Linked DNA regions of Homo sapiens. The protein of the gene in region 1 interacts with the protein of each later gene in a biochemical or structural test. Each region holds a gene or a part of one and is shown in the gene's direction. Other genes may lie near its edges.

Region 1 (7,871 bases):
CCTTGTAGCCATTTGGTTATGACGGCCATGCCTCCTACTTCTGAAAAGTTTACATTAGTAGACTTTAGGCCATAAGGTCTTCATATTCTTTTCTAGGTAGTTCTGGACCTTGGTGATGGAGACATAGAAGGTACCGCCAGTTAGTGGTGTTCTCTTTTTTTTTTTTTTTTTTTTTTTTAGATGGAGTCTTACTCTGTCTCCCAGGCTGGAGTGCAGTGGCACAATCTTGGCTCACTGCAGCCTCCACCTCCTGGGTTCAAGCAATACTCCTGCCTCAGCCTCCCAGTAGCTGGGATTACAGGTGCCCGCCACCATGCCTGGCTAATTTTTTTGAATTTTTAGTAGCAACAGGGTTTCACTATGTTGGCCAGGCTGGTCTCAAACTCTTGACCTCAAGTGATCCACCCGCCTCGGCCTCCCAAAGTGCTGGGATTACAGGCATGAGCCACTGCACCTGGCCTGGTGTTCTCTTAAAGGGAGTTAGATCCACCTTCACCAAAATGAGTCAGTTCCTTAATAATTTATCTAGCTGCTCCAAAAGCCCCTGCACCTTGTTTTCACATATCCATAGCAGATAAAGTTTAGAATATTTCTTTATTTTTACTTTTTTTGTGGAGACAGGGTCTTGCTATGTTGTCCAGGCTAGTCTCAAACTCCTGGTCCTCCCTCCTCAGCTTCTCAAAGCACTGGGATTATAGGCATGAGCCATCATGCCTGGCCAAGTTTAGGATAATTCTTAACCTGACTTGATCTATCCATAAACCTAACCCTAGGAAGATAGCAGTACCACCCCTCTGCCTGGCACCCCAAGTTTCCTCTATTCTGAATTGCTTCCCCTTCCCCTGGGACACATCATGCTTTCTTACAACTTGACGCTTCTGAACATCCTATTTCTTCCACTTGGAATGTCCTAACCTGTCTCGCCTAACTTGCAAATTCCCACGCGTCTTTAAAACCTCCACTGAAGCACAGCCCCTGCCAGACACCACTTAAGTGGAGCTCGTCCCTCTCTCCTGTGTGCTATCTCTGTGACTCCTATATGCCTTCTTTACCACTCTTTTCACTTCATTAAATGTCTGGTCTCCCGTACGGAACTGTGAACTTCCTAGTAGCAGTGACCAGAGCCAGGGATTATTTAACTGTGTAGCCCCATGTCTTAGTTTGTTAGGGCTACTATAACAAAATACTATAACCTGGGTAACTGTAACAAACAGAAATTTGTTTCTCACAGTTCTGGAGGCTGGAAAGTTCAAGAGCGTGGTGCTGGCAGATTTAGTGTCTGGTGAGGGCCTGTTTCCTTGTTCATAAATGGTGCCTGCTCTCTGTGTCCCCACATGGTGGAAAAGGCTACTAACTCTCTGCAGTCACTTGATCTAACCACCTCCTAATACCATCACATTGTGGGTTAGGATTTCAAAATATAAATTTGGGGCGTACACAAACATTCAGACCATAACATTCCACCAACGGTGCCAAAAATATGTTAGGTTCTTATAGCTTATTGCTTAATTGAATAAAAGAATGAGTTCCTGGACAGGTGTGGTGACTCACGCCTGTAATCCTAGCACTTTGGGAGGCCGAGGCAGGTGGATCACTTGAGGTCAGGAGTTGGAGACCAGCCTGGCCAACGTGGTGAAACCCCGTCTCTACAAAAAATACAAAAATTAGCTAGGCGTGTTGGTGGGCACCTGTAGTCCCAGCTACTCGGGAGGCTAAGGCAGGAGAACCACTTGAACCATGAGGCAGAGGTTGCAGTGAGCTGAGATTGTGCCACTGCACTCCAGCCTGGGCAACACAGTGAAATTCTGTCTCAAAAAAACAAAAACAAAACAAAACAAGAATGAGTTCCTAATAGATTGCCAGACTGAAGTGTAGTCTACTGCATTTGATGATTCATCATGTCTCCTAGGCCTAGCACATACTAAATTCTTTGTAAATGTTTCTGGGATAAGGGGATTAAATGAGTAAATGTGTTTTGAAACCAGCAATTTTTATGTTCATTTCCAATTTTCCTTGTGATCAGTACTTTGCCCAGTGAAAAATCAACTTTCTTCCTCAAGGCTCTATTCTGAGTTCTCCTGTTTCTCTCTACTCCTGCTAGATCCTGCCTACCTCCTTGTTATCTGAATCTGGATTTTAAACATATAGAACACACAGAGTTTTTACAATGGGTGAAAACCAAAGAGCAGTCTCTTGCTAACTGAATGAAGCTTTTAAGGAGGTTCCTATTTAAAATGAAATCTGCTCTGGTGGAGTTATGAAGATTAAACATGGTAATATTTGTGAAAGTGTTTTATAAAGAGATCAAAATATGTGTAATTATATGAGATAATTGATAATGATGCATTATGATAATAAAATTTGAGGGAAATAACTCCCCAAATTTACCCACTTCACTCTCCCCAAAGCCCCAGGAGTGTGTTTGTACAGCTTTTCTATTTAACATTCACTCAGGGAGATGTCAATATTTAATAGAATATTTAACAGAATGAGGAAAATCTAAGCAATGGTTAATAGTCACTTAGAGGTCAGTAAAAATTAATATAATTTTCAAAGATGTACCATTTATAATCAAAATAGCTATGGGGTAGGTCAACTGCAATATTTCCTTATGTTAAGCCACAAAAAATATACAAAATTGAAATTATATTTGTCATGATATAAAACAATATACTACAAAAAGTTCCCTATTGTCTTTTTCTTTCTTAAAGTTAATGATTGTGATCCTTTGTCAAAAAAAAAAAAAAAAAAGAATCAGTGCTCCTTTTCCTCATGTTAAATGAGTAAATTAATATTACTAATTTGGAAATCGTAAACTATGGCTTCCAGTAACTAGCATTTATTTTATTCATGAGAAAACAGTGGCATATTTAGCTTCTACTGAAGTATTGTACGAATAACTTAAGCAAAAAGGGGTGTCATATTATATTAAAATTGATTTTTTTGTTTCATTTTTTTATTTGAACATCAGTTGTATGGAGTACTCATTTTAAAAAGGAAAATGGTATGAAAATAATTGTTTTGAAAGGAGAAAAAAGAGGTGTGAGCTTTCTTGAAAGTGTAAGGAAAGTAGTGTGATGGAAGTCATAGTGAAATCAGACTGGGAGTCAGAAAACCGGTTCTAGTGTCATCTCTGCTACTTAGTAGCCCTTTTCTTTTAGTCGATTCTAAACACTAAATATGCTTCCGCATGTGGATTTAAATGTGATGGTCGCCAGTGACAAGCATAGGGGGATATTTCTTGCTAGGGTCAGTTCAGGTCATGATTCCTCTAAAGGCATATTATTGGATTATTTTACTGTGGGTCTACTTTATTAGGAGAAGGCCCCGAAAGGGTGTTTTGTTTTGTTTTGTTTTGTTTTGTTTTGTTTGGAGGGACGTAATACTAGGGAAAATTCTTTTTGTCACAGGTTCCCTCTCCCAGTGACCCTAACTTGGAGGCCTCTTTAGGAGTCCCAGAGACTCTGAGAGGGTCACACTGTACCTTGAAACAGTTTTTGGCGTTTGTATAAAGCTGCGGATGCGCTCTGTAGGAGGTTGCTATGACAATTTGCAAACAGTAGAGTGGATGAAACTCCGCAGGAGGTGGCTCCCTTCCGACTGGAGTCTGCACTAGTTCGGGCCTGCACAGTAGGTCCAGCCAGGAGCCAGAGATACTCGGGCGGGGCAGAGCATAATGGACCCCTGGCCCCAAGAGAACTTCAGAAACTAGGCACCTCTCGAGAAGGAAGTGCATGGCATAACTCTGCCCCGTCATCCGGGATTTGTCGGGCTTTCCCACCCCACCTCCTCTCACAGTTGAAGTGGCAAAACCTGTGACCTTTGAACAGAGGCGCACTGTGTGCCACGCACGACGAGGCGCGGATGTGAGACGGGAAAGCAATTTTTTTTTGGTCTTCAAGGAAAAGAGAGGTTGTATATGGCGAATAAAAAAGGCAGGGAAATTCTCCACGTGTCTTGGAAGGGAAGGGGGAAAGAGATGTGTCGGGTGGGGTGAGAGGAATTCGAGGTGTCGCTCCCTCACCGCAGAGCTGAAAGGAAGGTGTGTCTCTCCCAGTGGCCGCGCAGGGGAAAGGCTCGGAGTTGTAAGGAAATAGGAGATGTCTCTGATGTTTATTTTTGCCTAGCAACCCACAGCCAACTGCTTCCCCAGCTGCCGTCCACACGCGCCTCTCTGCCTCCCCTTGTCCTAGCGACTGGCGAGCGGTCACTTGGTGTCAGTAAACCGGGGAGGGTGTGTGGTGGAGGTGGGAGGGCAGCCCCCTCTTTCGCCCCTGCTCAGGGTCAACGAGCTCAGCGGCCGCCCCTCCCGGGACTTGCCTCTCCGAGGTGACCCTCGCACAACTAAGTTATCTACATGATGAATTGGGGAGAGGGGAGTGGCTAAGTCGCTGGGACCAAGAATGGGGGGACGGGGAAGCAGTACTGTCTGTGAGCAGCCATTCAGTTCGAAGAGCTGAAAATGCATTTATGTTTAGGGGTGCGCATGGCAGGGGAGGGGTCTCTGCGGCGCTTTCGGCCGGAGGGCAGCAGCGGTAGGTTGAGCTGTAGGGCAGAGAAGGGGCGCCGCGGGGCCGGGGAGGGGAAAAGGTCGCCGGAGTGGAGCCGAGGGAAGCAGTGCAGATGGCCGGAGGGGGCGGAGGAGGGCGAGCGGAGGCCGCCGAGTTTTCCGGGGAGCGGAGGGGCGGCTGCGCGCAAACCGGGGGACTGAGAGGAGCCGGGCGGGAGGTTGGGTGGGGGTGGGGTGTGCGTGGCCGCGGCCGGGGGAGCCGGGGGCGGGGCCTGCGGCGGCGGAGGAGGGCGGCGGAGGGCGGCGGGGGCGGGGCCGCGCGCCGGCGCCTGTGTGTGAGTGCGCGGGGGCGCGCGCGCGCGGGCCCGGGAGAGGCTCCCGAGCCAGGCGGTCTTCGGTCCTCGCAGCGCTTCCAGCTCCCCGCGCCCCTATGTGAGGGAGACGGGGAGGCCCGCGGCGCGCAGGGGAGGGCGAGGCATGTGCACGGGCCGGAGGGTGCTGCAGCCGCCCGAGGAAGAGGAGGACGGCGGCGAGGAGGAGAGCGGGGGGCTCGCGGCGGCGGGCCCCGGCCGAGGGGATGCAGTGGACTGTGTGTGTCTGGCTGTAGCAGACGCGAGGCGGCGACGAGGCGCCGGGGACCCGCGCGAGGGGCGGCCGGGAGGCGGCGGCGGCGGCCGCCAGAAGTAGCAGCAGGACCGGCGGCGGCGACGGCAGCCCTGAAATGCATTTTCCTCTCCAGCGGCCATGTTAACCAGGAAACCTTCGGCCGCCGCTCCCGCCGCCTACCCGACCGGTAAGGAGGCCGTGCCGCCGCGCCGCATCCCCGGACCCCCGCCGGCCCTGGGCAGCCCCTGTGGCGCGGGCGGCCGCTGCCTGCGGGACCTCGAACAAAGTCGGCGGCGCGGCGCGGGGGAGCCCCCGGGCGGACGACGCGCCCCGGGCTCCATGCAGGGTTGTGCGCGGCCCCGAAGGCCCCTCCGCGGGGAGCCCTCGGCCCGAAGAGGCTTCTGCCTGCCGGGGGCCCGGGCGGGGACCGTCCAGGCCTGCCGCCCCGCCCTGCGCTGCCCGGGGCTTGGCGTGGCCGTGGCTCCCTGCTCAGCTGTCCAAACCCACCTCCCGGCTGCTGGCCGTCTGCAACGTGGGCCGCCTAGCCCCGGCGCGGCCCGGCTCCCCCGCCGGGTCGCGAACTCGCGCGCCAGGGCCCCACTTAACTTTGCAGCTGCCCGCGCCCCGCCCGTGGGTGTGCGCTGGGGAGCCGTGACCCGAACGCCCGTTTTTACTGCCCCGGTCTCTTCCTCCGTCTTTCTTTGGAAGAGGGTTGTCGCTGCCCAGCGGGGTTGGAGGGGGGGTCTGGGTGACTTTCTCCCCCCTGACCCTCTTTTGTCTCCTCCCGCACGTGGCTTCCAGGCCGAGGTGGGGACAGCGCCGTTCGTCAGCTTCAGGCTTCCCCGGGGCTCGGTGCAGGGGCCACCCGGAGCGGAGTGGGGACTGGCCCGCCCTCCCCCATCGCCCTGCCGCCTCTCCGGGCCAGCAACGCTGCCGCCGCAGCCCACACGGTGAGACCCAGCCCGCGGGCGGCCCGGGCGGTGGGGGCGGGAGGGGCCCCAGGCCGAAGCACCCGGACTTGGAGGGGTCTGACGCCGGGAGAAGAGGGGTCGAGATACAAGCAGCCCCACGCCTCGGGCCGATGGTCTCTCGTCGACGCCGCCCTGGTTAAGTTGGGCGAGCCCAAAGCTGCAGCCACAAAGGAAGATTCGTGGCGTGGGCCCCTTACTTCCCCTCCAGAGCTCGCCCACCCATGACCTCCTCTTCCTAGGAACTTCCTCCTTGCTGCTTTCCTTCTTTCCTCATTTTTCGTCCTTGCATCCCAGAGTTCCCTTCCCTGACCCGGTAAACATCTCTGTCCTTCCCCCACCTCCCCGTGGGTAGTGGGTATTTATAGAAACAGATACGTGTTAGGGGACAGCCAGACCGGCCTGCCCGGAAAATCGATCCCCCAAAGAGCCTCCCAGGCCTGGCTCCAGCCAGCAGGGAGCATCGCCAATTGTCCCCCGCGTGTGTAAGCATGTTTTATGAGTGCTACAGGTTTGAGCACAGCAGAAATTGTAATCAACATTAACAAAAATAAGGGCCGCCGCAGCAGTCAAAACAAGCCACCCCTGTAGGATTCTGCAGTTGGACATTATTCAAAAGGAAAGGGCAAGCGTTGCTTTGGAGGTGGGAAAGAAAAAGCACCTAACAGGTGCTGTGGTCTCTGGGAGGGGAGAGGCCAGCGTGGGACTGGTTGCTGGTGGCTGCGGAGACTGGCAAGCTGGATTCGACTAAAGCATGTACCTTTTCTCAGCTCCCAGGGATCACCCTTGGATGGTGATGGCCAGCCTGGAGGAGGTCTGCACTTGGAGGAGGTGATGGTTTGGAGGTCTTTTTTTCCCAATTGGATTTTCCACAGGAACAGCCTAAGATGGTTCTGTGTGAGGGAGGCTTGCTAGGGATTGGTTTTATTTGCTAAGTGAAAGTTGAGTTCTTGAAGAAAAGGCCATCTCCGGTCTACAGGGGAGTAGCTCTGGGGACATATGTTATGGGGAAACTTGTTTGTCAGAGAACTGTGAGGGGATGTCTAGACTGTAGTTGCACCTGTTAGACTTGGAGAGATGTGTGCAAGTTTCGTAGGAAAATGTTTTGTTGCTGTTACTATCTTCCCCCTCCCTCTGTCTGTCTCTCTATCCTGACACATCTGGTCCCAGGGGCTGGGAATTCATTGCACAGAGGTTAACTAACCTGTGTTGGACTGTGGATGGTATAGTAGGATGGATGATTCTGTATATTACTGTTAAGTGTTCTTGTCACAGTGATATTTAAGGGACTGCCATTGATTTTAGGGGTTTGGATTTTTTTGTTTGGGATCATCTGACAATTTGGAAAATATAATACCCAGTTTTTTGCTATGTGTTGATGTAATCACATGACATGGTGTGAGCTGGAAAAAGAACTATTTGGTTTGCATGTGGATTCCAATTTTGTAAGGATGGGCTTTGCTTGATCAGAGCCTCTTTGCAATTGAAATACATGTAATGAAAGTAGATGAAACGACAAGTCTCCACTGGAGGGAGAGCCTGTGGTGCACCAGAAAAGGAAGGATGCGAATGTGCTTCTCAGTACTCCTCATAATGGAGGCCTGTATTTTGCTGTGGCATATGCCAGATTTACTTGTTTTTAACGTGTGTGTAAACTTCGGTATGCTGTTAATTATTAGATGCTTGACTTTGAAGGTGTGAATTTGGGTTTCGATGGTGGTTTAGTTTTGATTTTATTTCTATAACATAGCAGATTTCATAGTACAGGAAAGGTTACAAGGACCACA
Region 2 (7,582 bases), on another chromosome or scaffold:
TGATTCCAATTACATAAAATACCTAGAATATGCAAATTCATGGAGATAGAAAGTAGATTAGAGGTTACCAGGGACTCAAGGAAGATAACAATGGGGAGTTGCTTAATGGATGGAGTTTCTATTTGGGATGATGAAGGGGTTCTGGATATGAATAGTGGTGATGGTTGCAAAACATTATAATTAATGCTACTGAATTGTACACTTAAAATGATTTAAATGGTTAATTTTATATTATATGTATTTTTTACCAGAATAAAAAATGTTGGCTGGGTGTGGTGGTTCATGCCTGTAATCCCAGCACTTTGAGAGGCCAAGGTGGGAAGATCGCTTGAATTCAGGAGTTCAAGACCAGCCTGGGCAACCTAGGGAAACCCGTCTCTACCAGAAAAAAATAGCTGGGCATGGTGACATGTGCCTGTAGGCCCAGCTACTCAGAAGGCTGAGGCAGGAGAATCGCTTCAGCCTGGAAGGTTGAGGCTGCAGTGAGCCATGATTGCCCCCACTGCACTCCAGCCTGGGCAACAGTACAAGATCCTATCTCAAAAAAAAAAAAAAAAAGTAAAGACTGATAAATTGTACCTTATAAAAATAAAATAAATACATAAAATGTGACTAGCAATTTTAAGACACTTAAATATTTGAATTAATTTATTGAATACCTGCTCTGGGAATTAGTGTTGTGTTTCCATTTACAGAGACAAAACAGGTCTAATTGATTGACTAAACAATAGATGTAAATGTGGTCAGTGTTTGGATGTCTATTCATAGAATAGGAACAATTTTTCTGAGAAATGATTTGACTCTCAGCTGTTTCCTGTATGACCTCTCAATTTACATTTTATTCAAGAGTTTCTAATATAATATTGTGGAGCAAAGAAACTTGACAGCAACAGCTGTTGAGAGAAGGTAACTGTCATATTAATATTTCTGGGAAGAGGTATTGCGGTGTTACCAGATTCCAGATTTGCACCTTTTCCCCTCAATCCCTTTATCCCTCTCAAACATTATAGTGATTTATGAAAATATATGTATAATTCCAAATAAGTTTTAGATAATTCCATATATACCAAATACCCAATTATCTCTTTGCTGTCAAAGGGTAATTTATCCTCATCATGACACTTGCCATCATTACAAGTTTAAAGCCTAAAAATGAAAAGAGGTTTCACACATTTAAGAGCTAACTCATTTAATAATAAATCAAAAGTAAGTATGAGTTTCATTTAGTAGTAGCATGAGCTAGCTGCAGGGAAGGTCCTCTCAAGGTGGTCCTTTTTCTTCTCTTCAATAAAGGCAGAACTCTATTAAAGCATATTAGTAAAAACCATATTTAAAAGAATTACTACACTGAACTGAGCAGCCACCAAATGCAATTGGTACCAGGTGATATAAGGGCTTCTCCTCTCAGGGGGCTTATAAGCAACTAAGGCAGGAAGTCACAGATACCATATTCTGCAGTGTAATTTACAAATGAGGTGAAAACAAAGTGTTCCAAAATTCTAAGAGAGACATTGGAATTCTGACCACAAGTGTAATTTATGGAGCCTCAGAGTAATTATAGGATCTGGAACAGCTGGTGCTCAAATTTAGTGGTCCTCCAGTTGCTGGAATCTGCGATTTCTGGGAAGTTAAACTTTGTGTCACTGCTTCTACTTGTGATAAAATGAAACCGCTTTCAAAGAGAAGATTCCTATTCCTAGCCTTTTTGGGTAACTTCTACTACCTCCACTTAAGGATGAAAAGGGAGAAGTTTCCTCCAAGACTGCCTCATGGGGATCAGAGTGTCACCTCCATGCTCCTGCCCTAAGTGCCCCTGAGCACACCCCAGAGGGAGGCTAAGAGATTTTTGAGAAAGACCATGTGACTGGCTGATAAACACCTATTTTCCTCAGATTCCACCTGAATTTATATCATCAGTGCATCACTCTTTTATTTTGTTCTCTCTGTTCCTCTTTTTAAATATTAATATTCTCTGGAGAGGGGTAAAACATTAAATGAATTCACACTGAGGAAACTGGCCAGGTACAATGGCTTATGCCTGTAATTTCAGCAATTTGGGAGGCCAAGGCAGACAGATTGCTTGAGCCCCAGAGTTTGAGACCAGCTTGGGCAACATAATGAGACCTCGTCTCTACAAAAGAAAAACAAAAAAAAAAATTAGCCAAGCATGGTGGCACACACCTGTAGTCTCAGGTATTTGGGATGCTGAGGTGGGAGGATTGCTTTAGCCCAGGAGGTTGAGGCTGCAGTGAGCCATGACCATGCCACTGCACTCCAGCCTGGGTGACACAGCAAAACACTGTCTCAAAAAAAAAAAAGAAACTCTTCAGGCTGATCAGATCTGCTTTTCTCTGATGAGTTTCTTAGGAGCTCTACATTTCTGGTTGCTGCAATAGGCAAAGTATAGAATGGAGGTCAAGGCCTCAAATTTCTCTGACTTCCCAGCTGGGCTTGAGAGTGACTCTGGCCCTCAACTGAGGGCATTAGTAAGCTGTCCTTAAGAACGAGAGTGTATTTTCTGGCTGTATTCTTAACTCATTTCACTATAGAGCCATGTCTGATATTAACAGTGCAGTGCTAGACTAGAGAGGCCTGGCACTCCTACAGCCTTCTCCTGTCTTCTAGCTGGGACTTCACACCACAGACCCAAAGGAAAAGAGACCCAAAGATCCCTGCAGAAACCTGAGAATATTTCCTTTACCTCAGTGGTTTCATAATCTGTTCTTAGTTTCCTGTTTCTGCTGTAAATAATTCACTATATTTTTAAGAGAGAGAAGGTCAGGCCCTTGTGAGCCAGAAGGGATTTGAGAGATGATGAAAGCTACGTATGTTACCCATAACCTAAGGACTTCTGGCAAGGTGGCCTACCTGAGCTGGAGTCATGCCTTTTTTCCCTGGACTTGGAGATACCTGTCAGTGCAGAAAGGCCTACTTTTGATCTTGGAAATAAGTTTCCTGGGGTGAGTTCTTAACCCTTTCCAGCTTTCCCACCCTCTTTGGCTTTAGCCATGGCCTTCTGATCTGTGTTTCTCAGGGGACCTGCAGGCCCCAGATATAGCCCCATGCTGTCCTCCTACCCCAGAGCACACTGTTCAGGCTACTTCCACTGGTACTGAAATCCAGTATTTCACTTACTCTTTTTCTTTCCAATATCCTCATGACATTCAATATTTCACTTACTCTAGGTCCTCCCTGCCTAAGGCCCAAGTCAACTTTCTGTCCAGTGGGATTTGTAATCCAATACCTCCTAGCCCTAGCAGAATCCCATGTGGATAATCAGAAATGTGACTGGAAAAAGGACAGAGCTCTATGGCTGTGGGTCCCAGTCCCCACTGCTGGCAGTAAGTCCCCAGCAGTGAGCTGTGTAAGCACCTTACATTCTGCGCTTGGTTGAAAACAGCAAGGCAAGCATCCACTTGAGAAATGTCAACCCCTAGGAAATCCCAGCCTCAAGTCTTTCTCATCCCTTGGGAAGTGCAAATTGGATAGAGAAGAAACCAATTAAAAACAAAACAAACAAATCATACTTAGATATTCTGGCTTTTCTCACCAGGGCTGGATTAAAGCATGTACTTCAAAATAATAACAACTTAAGTCAATAAATAAATGTAAGGAAGTCCAAATGTTCACCTGAAGACAACTGTGGTCATTTTTTGGCAATCCCAGGTTCTCTTTTCTACCTGTTTGCTCAATCGTGGTCTCCCTCTCCCTCTCTTGTTGGGGCCCATGCCCCTGCTTTACTGTTGCCAGAGGCTTGTACTTGTTTGCCTTTTAGGTAGGAGCAGTTACTTCCACTCCCCTCACCTGCCATAAAGCATCTTTATAAACAAAGCAAGTAGAAGAAACACATCCTGGTATCCACCACATTCGGCTTTTGTTGATTCTGTTCACTTGGGAGCACCTGCTGCTAGGGAATAAGAAGGTTGAGGCTGAAGAGTGAGGACTCTTCAGCTCCCCTCTGGCAGGACCCGGGAGAGGAAAGAGCCCTCAGCTGGTCCATCCTCCCCACTCCTGGTCAGCCTTCTGTTCTGAGATCAAAGTGGTGGGGTCACATTCTCGAGAACTGTGCTCAGCCCCCTCATCTCACACCCTTTCCCTCTCCCTGTGTGCCTGCCCCCCTCTTACATAACCATGCTGGTGATTGGCACCGTCATAAATCAATACTTTGCTCACTTTCACATCAAGTAACACTATCCAGGGAGGTGGTTTCAACAAAGGAGGAAGTATAAGGAGATCTAGGTTCAAATTAATGTTGCCCCTAGTGGTAAAGGACAGAGACCCTCAGACTGATGAAATGCACTCAGAATTACTTAGACAAAGCGGATATTTGCCACTCTCTTCCCCTTTTCCTGTGTTTTTGTAGTGAAGAGACCTGAAAGAAAAAAGTAGGGAGAACATAATGAGAACAAATACGGTAATCTCTTCATTTGCTAGTTCAAGTGCTGGACTTGGGACTTAGGAGGGGCAATGGAGCCGCTTAGTGCCTACATCTGACTTGGACTGAAATATAGGTGAGAGACAAGATTGTCTCATATCCGGGGAAATCATAACCTATGACTAGGACGGGAAGAGGAAGCACTGCCTTTACTTCAGTGGGAATCTCGGCCTCAGCCTGCAAGCCAAGTGTTCACAGTGAGAAAAGCAAGAGAATAAGCTAATACTCCTGTCCTGAACAAGGCAGCGGCTCCTTGGTAAAGCTACTCCTTGATCGATCCTTTGCACCGGATTGTTCAAAGTGGACCCCAGGGGAGAAGTCGGAGCAAAGAACTTACCACCAAGCAGGTATGGTTTTTCTTTCTTTCTCTTTTGCTGGGGGCTGACCGCCCTTCAGCTCCAGCCAAAAGATGTGTGTGAACACAAATATACCTTCTGTTTGAGGTCAGCATCATAGTGGGTCGTGAATCATGTTGGCCTTGCTGCTGTCTCCTCATTTCTAGGGTGGAAAAAAAAAAGCATGAAAACAATCACTTAATGTTGAGCCCCATTACTGATGCTCTCTGGTCCTGCACTAGCCTCCTAGAAAAATCACCACAGGAGAAGCCTTAACTACTGCATGAGTTACCACAAGTCACACATACAACCAGCTCCCTGTTACAGGGCTGGAGTCCCTGGACCCAGGAAATACCACCTCCAAGGACTGTGGGAGCTGGGGACTATGGGAACTGGGATCAACTCAGTCCTGATTCCTTTTGGCCTGCTGGGTTAGTGCTGGCAGCCCCCTGAGGCCAAGGACAGCAGCATGACAGTCACCAGGACTCACCACTTCAAGGAGGGGTCCCTCAGAGCACCTGCCATACCCCTGCACAGTGCTGCGGCTGAGTTGGCTTCAAACCAGTGAGTTTTCTACCTCTACTATTGAAAGGGCACCTTGTCCCACAGAACCGAGTCTTGCCTGCATGTGGTCAGTGCCACCAGGTCCTTCTTCTCTCCACTTTACAGCCCAGCTCGGCTGAAGCTATGGCCAGAGGCACTGCTTTAAGGCCACTCCATATCTAGGACAGGTCAACAGACACCTCTGAGGCCACTGAGTCTTGACTCAATGAATCAGCTATAGCAGGCACTATTCCTCTCCCACATGGCCTCTAATGATATGGTCAGAGTTGAAAGGATGCTAAGGGAGGCCTCAGAGGCTTATTTAATCAGTTGGTTAATGGGAAAAAGTATTTTGTGGTACACAAATACGCTTTAAAAATATTTTAGTTATGTCATAAAAGTCTAAACCTGGGGTTGACAAACTATGGCTCACAGGCTAACTCTGGCCCACCAGCTGTTTTTATAAATGAAGCTTTATTGGAACACAGCCATGCCCATTCGTTATGTATTGTATATGGCTGTTTTTGCCCTACAACATCCTTTCAACTCTGGCCATATCATTAGAGGCCATGTGGGAGAGGAATAGTGCCTGCTATAGCTGATTCATTGAGTCAGCAAAATTGACCAATTGCGAAAGAGACAGTATGGCCCACAAAGCCTAAAATATTAACTATCTGGCCTTTAACAGAAAAAGTTTGCCAACTCCTGATCTAAAAGCTGTCAACTTGTTCCAAAATTATTATGGAATAAACCCAAGACAACCACAAAACTGACTAGACTAGGTTTTTTAGGTAATAACTTTTTAAATTATAAAGTAATACATGATTTCATGCTCCTTGAAAATGAGAAAGCAGTATAGATAAACCTAAATTCACCTTTGGCCATTCTGTCAATCCTAATCTCCAGTTTCCCCAAAAGTACTTAGTGTGATATATTTACTGCCAGACCATTGTGTCTGTGTGTGTGTTCATCTATGCATAGATGGACTATTAAACCTATCTGTTGCCATGTTGTTCTAATTCTGTTTTTCCACTCAATAGCAAGACTTGGAGACTTTCCATATCTGTATAGAGCTCTACTTCATTTATTTTAACTGCTACGTCATATTTCACAGTGTACACTTCTTTTATTTAGCCGTTTTCTTTTCGATAGATATTTAAGCTTTTCCAATTTTTCAGTCTTACCAATGAACCTCACTGTGTTTGTCTGCTTCTAGACATGTGCACGTATTGCACTAGAGGAACTACTAAGACGTTGAATTGCCACATCACAGGATATATGTGGTTCAATTTTTGGCTGCCAAACAGCCCTCCACAGTACCCGAACCGACTGTACTCCCACCAGCAGAGAAGGATAGTTACTGTTCCTCCACACTCCAAACAATGCTTGCTGTTTATTCAGTATTTTATTATTTTTTCCATTGAATTAGTGCAAATGACAACCCATTATTTCAATATTTTAATTTCCCTGATTATTAATGAAGTTGAGCATTCTTTTTATAGGACCCCTCTTGGCCATTGTATTTCTCTTCTTAAATTACCTATTCATATCCTTAGCTTATTTTATGTCGGATTTTTTTTCTTCTTTGTAGGAGTTTTTTATTTATTCTCAATGCAAATTATTTGATATGTGTGTAATATTCTCTCTAAGCTTTGTTTAAATCATACTTTTTAGCCAACAGAAATTTTTACTATTATTGTTGTTGTTATTTTGATGTAGTTGAATCTGTTAGTTTCCCTCTTTCTGGATTTTACTCTTTGAGGCTGATTTTTAAAAGATTTCTCAACTTCCAAAATTATGAAGCTACTTTGGTGCACCTTCCTGTAATACTTTTATTTAAAAAGTTAGTCTTTATTCACCTGGCACTTATTGCAATACATTATTTCAATACTATTTATTGAAAAGTCCATCTTTTTCCTATTTGTTTGAAATATCACCTCTATCATGTACTAAATTCCCACTTACACATGTCCATTTCTGTGTCCTTTTGTATTTATTTCCTATTCCTGAGCCAATTTCCACTATAATGTTTACCTTTTCTACTTGATTTTTTCCCCCAATAAATAGAAAATCTATTTTGTGTTTTGATATTTTGCCTAGTTACCTTATGGAATTCTCTTAATAGTTATAAAAGCTTATCAGTTGATTCCTTTGGAATTTCTAGTTAGACAAACATATCATCTATATATAGTAAGAGTTTTGCTCCTTCCTTTCCAATCTTTACAAACCTTAATTTTTTGTGTCTTATTGGTTTTTCTTTGCCATTCAG
Region 3 (7,022 bases), on another chromosome or scaffold:
AGTGTCTTGCTACTACTTGACAACCATATATAATGTTTATATTACGTTCATATAAAATTGTCCTTTTACTCTTGGAATTCGACATACTGTTAGGATTTTCACAAATTAGTTTAAGGCAGAGCAGGACAAGGCCCAGAAAAGGGTGGCTGATGTAATCAGGAAACTGGGTAGGTTCTATTTGAAGATGATATAAAAAGAAATAAAACTGTTTTGAAAAAGATGGGGTCTTAAGAGAAGATAGTAAAAAAGTTTATAAACAGAGTGCTTGACCTTCTTTTCCTATTCACTCACTGCCATAAAGATAAGAGAGGGGCTTATTTAGGGGAATATAGTAAGTTTGTTAAATCCCAGCATTTAAATATTGTAAGGTACTCTTGGAGCAGGTGTTATTAAACTTTTTGGTTTCAAGATACCTTTACCATATTAATAATTACTGAGAACTCTAAAAGGCTTTTGTTTTTGTGTTATATCTATCAGTATTAGAAATTAAAACAGAAAATGTAAAAATATTTATGCATTAAAAATGTGGGCCAGGCACAGTGGCTCATGCTTGTAATTTCAGCACTTTGGAAGGACGAGGTGGGCAGATCACTTGAGGTCCGAAGTTTGAGACCAGCCTGGGCAATGTGGTGAAACCCCATCTCTACTAAAAATAGAAAAATTAGCCGGGGGTGGTGTTACGCACCTGTAGTCCCAGCTACCTGGGAGGCTGAGGCAGGAGAATCAATTGAACCCAGGAGGCAGAGGTTGCAGGGAGCTGAGATCACGCCACTGTACTCCAGCCTAGGCGACAGAGCAAGTCTTCATCTCAAAAAAAAAAAAGTGAACCCATTGCATGTTTGCGTTATTCATGAAAAATTTCCAAAATAAAACCAGATAATTTTAGCAAGTTTGAAAAAATGTCTGGCCTAATATCTCATATCTGCTTCTGTATTCAGTTTTTGTGACATCACATCATCTCTGGAAGACTCTCTTACTATGCAATGAGAGAATGAGAGTGCAAAAGGAAAGTGACATCTTATTATTACGAAAATAGCTTTGACTTCACAGGACCTTCTGAAAGGGTCTCAGACTTCTAGAGGTCTCCAGACTATACTTTGAGAAGTGCTGTTTTAGAATATTGGAAAAGTAGGTTATTATATTTATTTGGAGAATTGTTTAAAAAGTGATGATAGGCCAGGCGTGGTGGTTCATACCTGTAATCCCAGCACTTAGGGAGGCTGAGACGGGCAGATTGCTTGAGATCAGGAGTTCGAGACCAGCCTGGGCAATATGGTGAAACCCCATCTCTACCAAAAATAAAAAAAATTAGCCTGGTGTGTTGCCGCATGTCTGTAGTCCCAGCTACTAGGGACGCTGAGGTGGGAGGATTGCTTGAGCCCAGGAGGTAGAGAATGCAGTGAGCCAAGATGGTGCCACTGCACTTTAGCCGGGGCAACAGAGCAAGACTCTGTCTCCAAAAAAAAAAAAAAAAAAAAGATGACAGCTTACAAGATAACTAGAAAGGGTATAAATACATTTTTTAAACTGGTACATCTGTGTTTATTTATTTTTTTGTTGGTTTTGGAGACAGAGTCTTGCTCTGTTGCCCAGGCTGGAGTGCAGTGGCAGGATCTTGGCTCACTCCAACCTCCACCTCCCAGGTTCAAGTGATTCTTGTGCCTCAGTCTCTGAAGTAGCTGGGATTACAGACACGCACCACCAAGCCCAGCTACTTTTTGCATTTTTTAGTAGAGACGGGGTTTTGCCATGTTGGCCAGGCTGGTCTCGAACTCCTGGCCTTGAGTGATCTGCCTGCCTCAGCCTCTCAATGTGCTGGGATTATAGGCATGAAACACGGTCCGGCCTGTATTTGGATTATTGAAAAAATATGTCCTTGATTTTAAAAATTTATTTTTAGAAATAAAATTAATAAATGTTTCTGCTTTAGAATATGCAGAATCTTTTAAAGAGAAAAGAAAATTACTCTTAGCATTCACTACGTAATATTTGCAAATACACATAATTAATATTATACTTTTAATCAAATTCATCTTTTTTATGAATATTTTCAAAACATAGAAAGGCACAGAGAATAGTTTAACAACTGCTCCATCATTAACCAGGATTGGCATGTTGTTGTATTTGCTTTTGGCTCAGTTCTTTTTCTGCCTCCCCAGAGTCACCCATCTTCTGAATTTGAACCATATTCTCCCCACTCATGTTTTTATACTATATATATCTGTGTGTTCATAAATAATAACGTCATACTGCTTTGCATGTTTTTAAATTATAAATATTTTCCTAAGTTCATCTTTCACAGCTTGCTTTTTTTACCCTTATATTCTTGAGATTTATATATGTTGATATTTATTTAAAATGCTGTATTTCTATACTGCAGTTTATTCTGCCATTGATGGCTAATTTAGTGTTTTTGTTTGGTTTTTTTGGCTATTAAATAAATGGTATCATGAACCTCCTTTTGGAGGCTCTCTTGAGGATATGATGTAGAGCATCTGGTTTGTAGGGTGTCTGTGTTCTTACCTTTATTGGATATTGCCAAATTGCTTCTAAAAATGTTCATACCATTGTCATCCCCCACCAGCAATATATAGGAGCTTTCATTTCTCTACTTTTTTTTTTCTTTTTTTTTTTTGAGGCAGAGTCTTGCTCTGTCACCCAGGCTGGAGTGCAGTAGTGGTGCAATCTCGGCTTATGGCAACCTCCGCCTCCTGGGTTCAAGCGATTCTCCTGCTTCAGCCTCCTGAGTAACTGGGACTACAGGCGCCCACTACCATGCCCAGCTAATTTTTGTATTTTTAGTAGAGACAGGGTTTCACCATATTGGCCAGGCTGGTCTTGAACTCCTGACCTCGTGATCCACCTGCCCTGGTCTCCCACCACACCCAGCCGGTTTTTTCTTTTTTAACTACAAAAGACATCCAACATTTCTCTACTTTCTTGCCAGTACTTGGTATTGTCAGATTTTTAATTTTATATCTTACATTTTTTATTTTTATATCATTAATGTTGTATTTTGAACCCTTTCCCTCATTCTTTAGGGTTCTTTGAAAATGATTGTCAATGGCTGTAGTTTATGAGTGTACTATACTCTAACACATATGGTGCTCTTGTCTATGTGGGTTTTCTCATTCTTTTGCTATTTTAATGTGGCTAATGAACATCTTAATACATAAATTCTTCTGATTATTTCTTTCTTTCTTTTTTTTTTTTTTTTTGAAACGGAGTCTCACTGTGTTGACCAAGCTCGAGTGCAGTGGTGTGATCTTGGCTCACTGTAGCCTCTGCCTCCCAGATTCAAGCAGTTCTTCCTGCCTCAGCCTCCTGAGTAGCTGGGATTACAGATGCCCACCACCATGCCTGGCTGGTTTTTGTATTTTTTAATAGAGATGGGGTTTCAACATGTTGGCCAGGCTGGTCTTGAATTCCTGACCTCAGGTCATCCGCCTGCCTCAGCCTCCCAAATTGTTGTGATTACCGGCGTGAGCCACTGCACCCGGCCTGAGTCTTTTTTCTTTTCTTTTTTTTTTTTTGTGGAGACAGAGTCTCTCTCTGTGGCCCGAGCTGGAGTGCGGTGGCTCAATCTCAGCTCACTGCAACTTCCGCCTCCTGGGTTCAAGCAATTCTCCTGCCTCAACCTCCCGAGTAGCTGGGACTACAGGCGCCCGCCACTAAGCCTGGGTAATTTATTTTTTTAATTTTTATTTTAGTAGTGACAGGGTTTGGCCATGTTGCCCAGGCTAGTCTTGAACTCCTGAGCTCAGGCAATCTGCCCGCCTCAGCCTCCCAAAGCACTAGGATTACAGGCATGAGACCACGCCTGGCCCTGGCCTGATTATTTCTTTAGGACAGATTGTCAGAGGTGAAATTTCTAGGACAAGGTTTATGAACATTTTAAGAATCTTGTTTCATATTTCCAGATTACTTTCTTTTTCTTCTTTTTTTTCATTTTTCTTTTTTTTTGTTTTTCGAGACAGGCTCTCACTCTGTTGCCCAGACTGGAGTGCAGTGGTGTAATCACGGCTCACCACAGCCTCAACTTCCTGGGCATAGGTGATCCTCCCACCTCAGCCTCCTGAGAAGCTGGGACTACAGGCACGTGCTACCACACCCGGCTAATATCTTATATTTTTTTTTTATAGAAAAAGATAAAACCATGTTGCCCATTCTGGTCTCAAACTCCTGGGTTCAAGTGATCCTCCCACCTTGGCCTCCTAAAGTGTTGGGATTATAGGCTTGAGCCACCGTGCCTGGCCTCCAGATTACTTTCTGGAAAGAGTGTACTAATTTCTACTCTCACCAAAACTTTGAGAGTACGTGTCTCTATATGTTTTCACTAGGATGAAAGGATTCAGGATTATTCTATGTTTTTTATCATAGAAGTTTAATAGGTAAAAATTCCATTGCTATATTTTTTGGAAGTAATGTCATGGTGACTATAAAATCCTCTCTTGATGCGACAGCTTGAGATAGAGCCACACTGGTAGTGCTTCTGATTTATTGTCTCTGTGTGTATGTGTCTATCTGTCTGTGTGTCTCTCTCTCTGTCTCTCTTGATTCTTGTGGCTATACTCTAATTTCCCTTTGACTAATTCTTCCTGTCCAGGAATGACACTGTGCGCTTTGCTTTGGATGTCCTGGCTATTCTTACTGTGGTGCCAAAAATCCAGCTCCAGTTGGCAGAATCAGTGGACGTGTTGGATGAGGCTGGATCTACAGTCTCTACTGTAGGTAGGTTGTACTTTGCCATTTTTGTTGTTTCTTGGTCTGGATTTGTTTTTTCTTTGCCACTCTGGTCTTGGTTACTTACCTGACCTAATTTTGGATTTTAGAACAGAAGTAGTAGAGGGGGGCTCCTTGTCTGTCCTTTATAAGGAGTACCATTCAGCAGATCAGGAACTAATTTAAAAAAAAAAACCAAAAAACAAAAATACAAATGTAGGACCAGATAGTTTGATGTAAGGGAGTCATGCTAGTAAACTCAGGTTTTCTGAGTGGTACTGGCATTTCTGCTATAATGGTATATTATAGCTTTCCTGAAAAGCTCACACTCTGAAGAGTCTTGCACTAAAAATAAAGTTCATGGGAAAAATGGGTTGAGGCAGATAGTAAAAAACTTAAGCATCACAGCTTTCCAGGAGTTAAAGGGAAAAAAAAACAACAAAGTAAGCAGTTTTGTAACCTGAGTCAGTAATTGGCAGGTAGCTCAAAATGGGTAGAAACCGTCATACATATATAAAAAAAGGAAAATATACTTTGATAATATACTTTATTAAGAGCAAGGCTGATCAGGGCACTGCTGGGGTGAGCATGGGAAGTCGTGTGATGGGACAAGATGCAGGATAGGACTAAGACACAGGCACTTGGTTTTTAATTTTCTTAAAATAGAGTGGAAAGGGTTCTGCTTCCACAGTAGCAGCCCAACCGAGGGCTTTCTCCGTTCCTAAGGTTTTAGTGTATTAAAATTAATAAACCAGAAAAGGTCGAGCACAGTGGCTCACACCTGTAATCCCAAAACTTTGGGAGGCCGAGGCGGGTGGATCACCTGAGGTCAGGAGTTCCAGACCAGACTGGCCAACATGGTGAAACCCCACCTCTACTAAAAATACAAAAATTAGCTGGGCGTGGTGACAGGCGCCTGTAATCCCAGCTCTTTGCAGGGATGAGGCAGGAGAATCACTTGAACTCGGGAGGCGGAGGTTGCAGTGAGCCAAGATCACGCCACTGCACTCCAGCTTGGGCGACAGAGCGAGACTCTGCCTCAAAAAAATAATAAAACCAGAAAAAATTGCACATGAACCTTGATTACTTTTCCATAATTATGACATGATTTCCCTATTTAATAACTGCATATGAGATACCATAAAAATACATTGTAGTAGAACTGTCTGCACTTTATACAAACCCTTGCAGTTTTTACAAAAGTAATATAGTTTTTTAAAGTAAAAGTGAGTAGAACACCAAATTTTGACTCTGGAACAACTATTGAAGTTGGCCATTAGTTTTATGGTGAATAATACATAATTTTTTTTCCCATTAGGTATCAGCATTATTTTGGGAGTGGCTGAGGGTGAGTTCTTCATCCATGATGCTGAAATTCAGAAGTCAGCACTTCAGATTATCATCAATTGTGTGTGTGGCCCAGATAACCGAATATCCAGTATTGGTAAATTTATCTCTGGTACTCCTCGGAGAAAGCTGCCTCAGAACCCTAAAAGCAGTGAGCACACCCTGGCCAAGATGTGGAATGTGGTTCAGTCCAACAACGGCATCAAGGTGCTCCTGTCCTTACTGTCCATTAAGATGCCCATCACAGATGCAGACCAAATCCGGGCCCTGGCCTGCAAAGCCCTAGTGGGCCTGTCTCGCAGTAGCACTGTCCGGCAGATCATCAGTAAACTGCCCCTTTTCAGCAGCTGCCAGATCCAGCAGCTGATGAAGGAGCCTGTGCTGCAGGACAAGCGCAGTGACCATGTCAAGTTCTGCAAGTATGCTGCTGAACTCATTGAACGGGTGTCAGGAAAACCACTTCTCATTGGCACTGATGTTTCCCTAGCACGACTGCAGAAAGCAGATGTTGTTGCCCAGTCAAGGATCTCCTTCCCTGAGAAAGAGCTGCTTTTGTTGATACGAAACCATCTTATTTCTAAAGGGCTTGGAGAAACAGCAACCGTGCTGACAAAAGAGGCTGACCTGCCCATGACTGCTGCCTCCCATTCTTCTGCCTTTACCCCAGTCACTGCTGCTGCTTCTCCTGTCTCTCTACCCCGAACCCCTCGTATCGCTAATGGCATTGCAACTCGTCTGGGCAGCCATGCTGCTGTGGGTGCCTCTGCGCCTTCTGCCCCTACTGCTCATCCTCAGCCACGGCCCCCCCAGGGTCCGCTAGCTCTGCCCGGCCCATCTTATGCAGGCAACTCCCCTTTGATTGGTAGAATCAGTTTTATCAGAGAGAGGCCATCACCCTGCAATGGCAGGAAAATCAGAGTGTTGCGGCAGAAGTCGGACCATGGTGCCTACAG

Evidence for each region. The genes of interacting proteins can lie anywhere in the genome.
Region 2: of the proteins of DYRK2 (region 1) and NR1I2, one has a biochemical effect on the other in vitro, tested with the Homo sapiens proteins (one study listed by BioGRID).
Region 3: the proteins of DYRK2 (region 1) and DCAF1 form a complex in vitro, tested with the Homo sapiens proteins (one study listed by BioGRID).

What each region holds. Positions count from the first base shown.
Region 1 is NC_000012.12:67,643,880-67,651,750, forward strand, and holds the start of DYRK2 (dual specificity tyrosine-phosphorylation-regulated kinase 2), read left to right. Parts: upstream 1-4,865; 5' UTR 4,866-5,254; coding exon 5,255-5,303; intron 5,304-5,917; coding exon 5,918-6,066; exon of another isoform or gene 6,067-6,915; intron 6,916-7,871. UniProt on the Homo sapiens protein: Serine/threonine-protein kinase involved in the regulation of the mitotic cell cycle, cell proliferation, apoptosis, organization of the cytoskeleton and neurite outgrowth. Functions in part via its role in ubiquitin-dependent proteasomal protein degradation.
Region 2 is NC_000003.12:119,777,519-119,785,100, forward strand, and holds the start of NR1I2 (nuclear receptor subfamily 1 group I member 2), read left to right. Parts: upstream 1-4,582; 5' UTR 4,583-4,782; intron 4,783-5,191; exon of another isoform or gene 5,192-5,239; coding exon of another isoform or gene 5,240-5,334; intron 5,335-7,582. UniProt on the Homo sapiens protein: Nuclear receptor that binds and is activated by variety of endogenous and xenobiotic compounds.
Region 3 is NC_000003.12:51,420,016-51,427,037, reverse strand, and holds part of DCAF1 (DDB1- and CUL4-associated factor 1), read left to right. Parts: intron 1-1,029; exon of another isoform or gene 1,030-1,128; intron 1,129-4,606; coding exon 4,607-4,731; intron 4,732-6,040; coding exon 6,041-7,022. UniProt on the Homo sapiens protein: Acts both as a substrate recognition component of E3 ubiquitin-protein ligase complexes and as an atypical serine/threonine-protein kinase, playing key roles in various processes such as cell cycle, telomerase regulation and histone modification.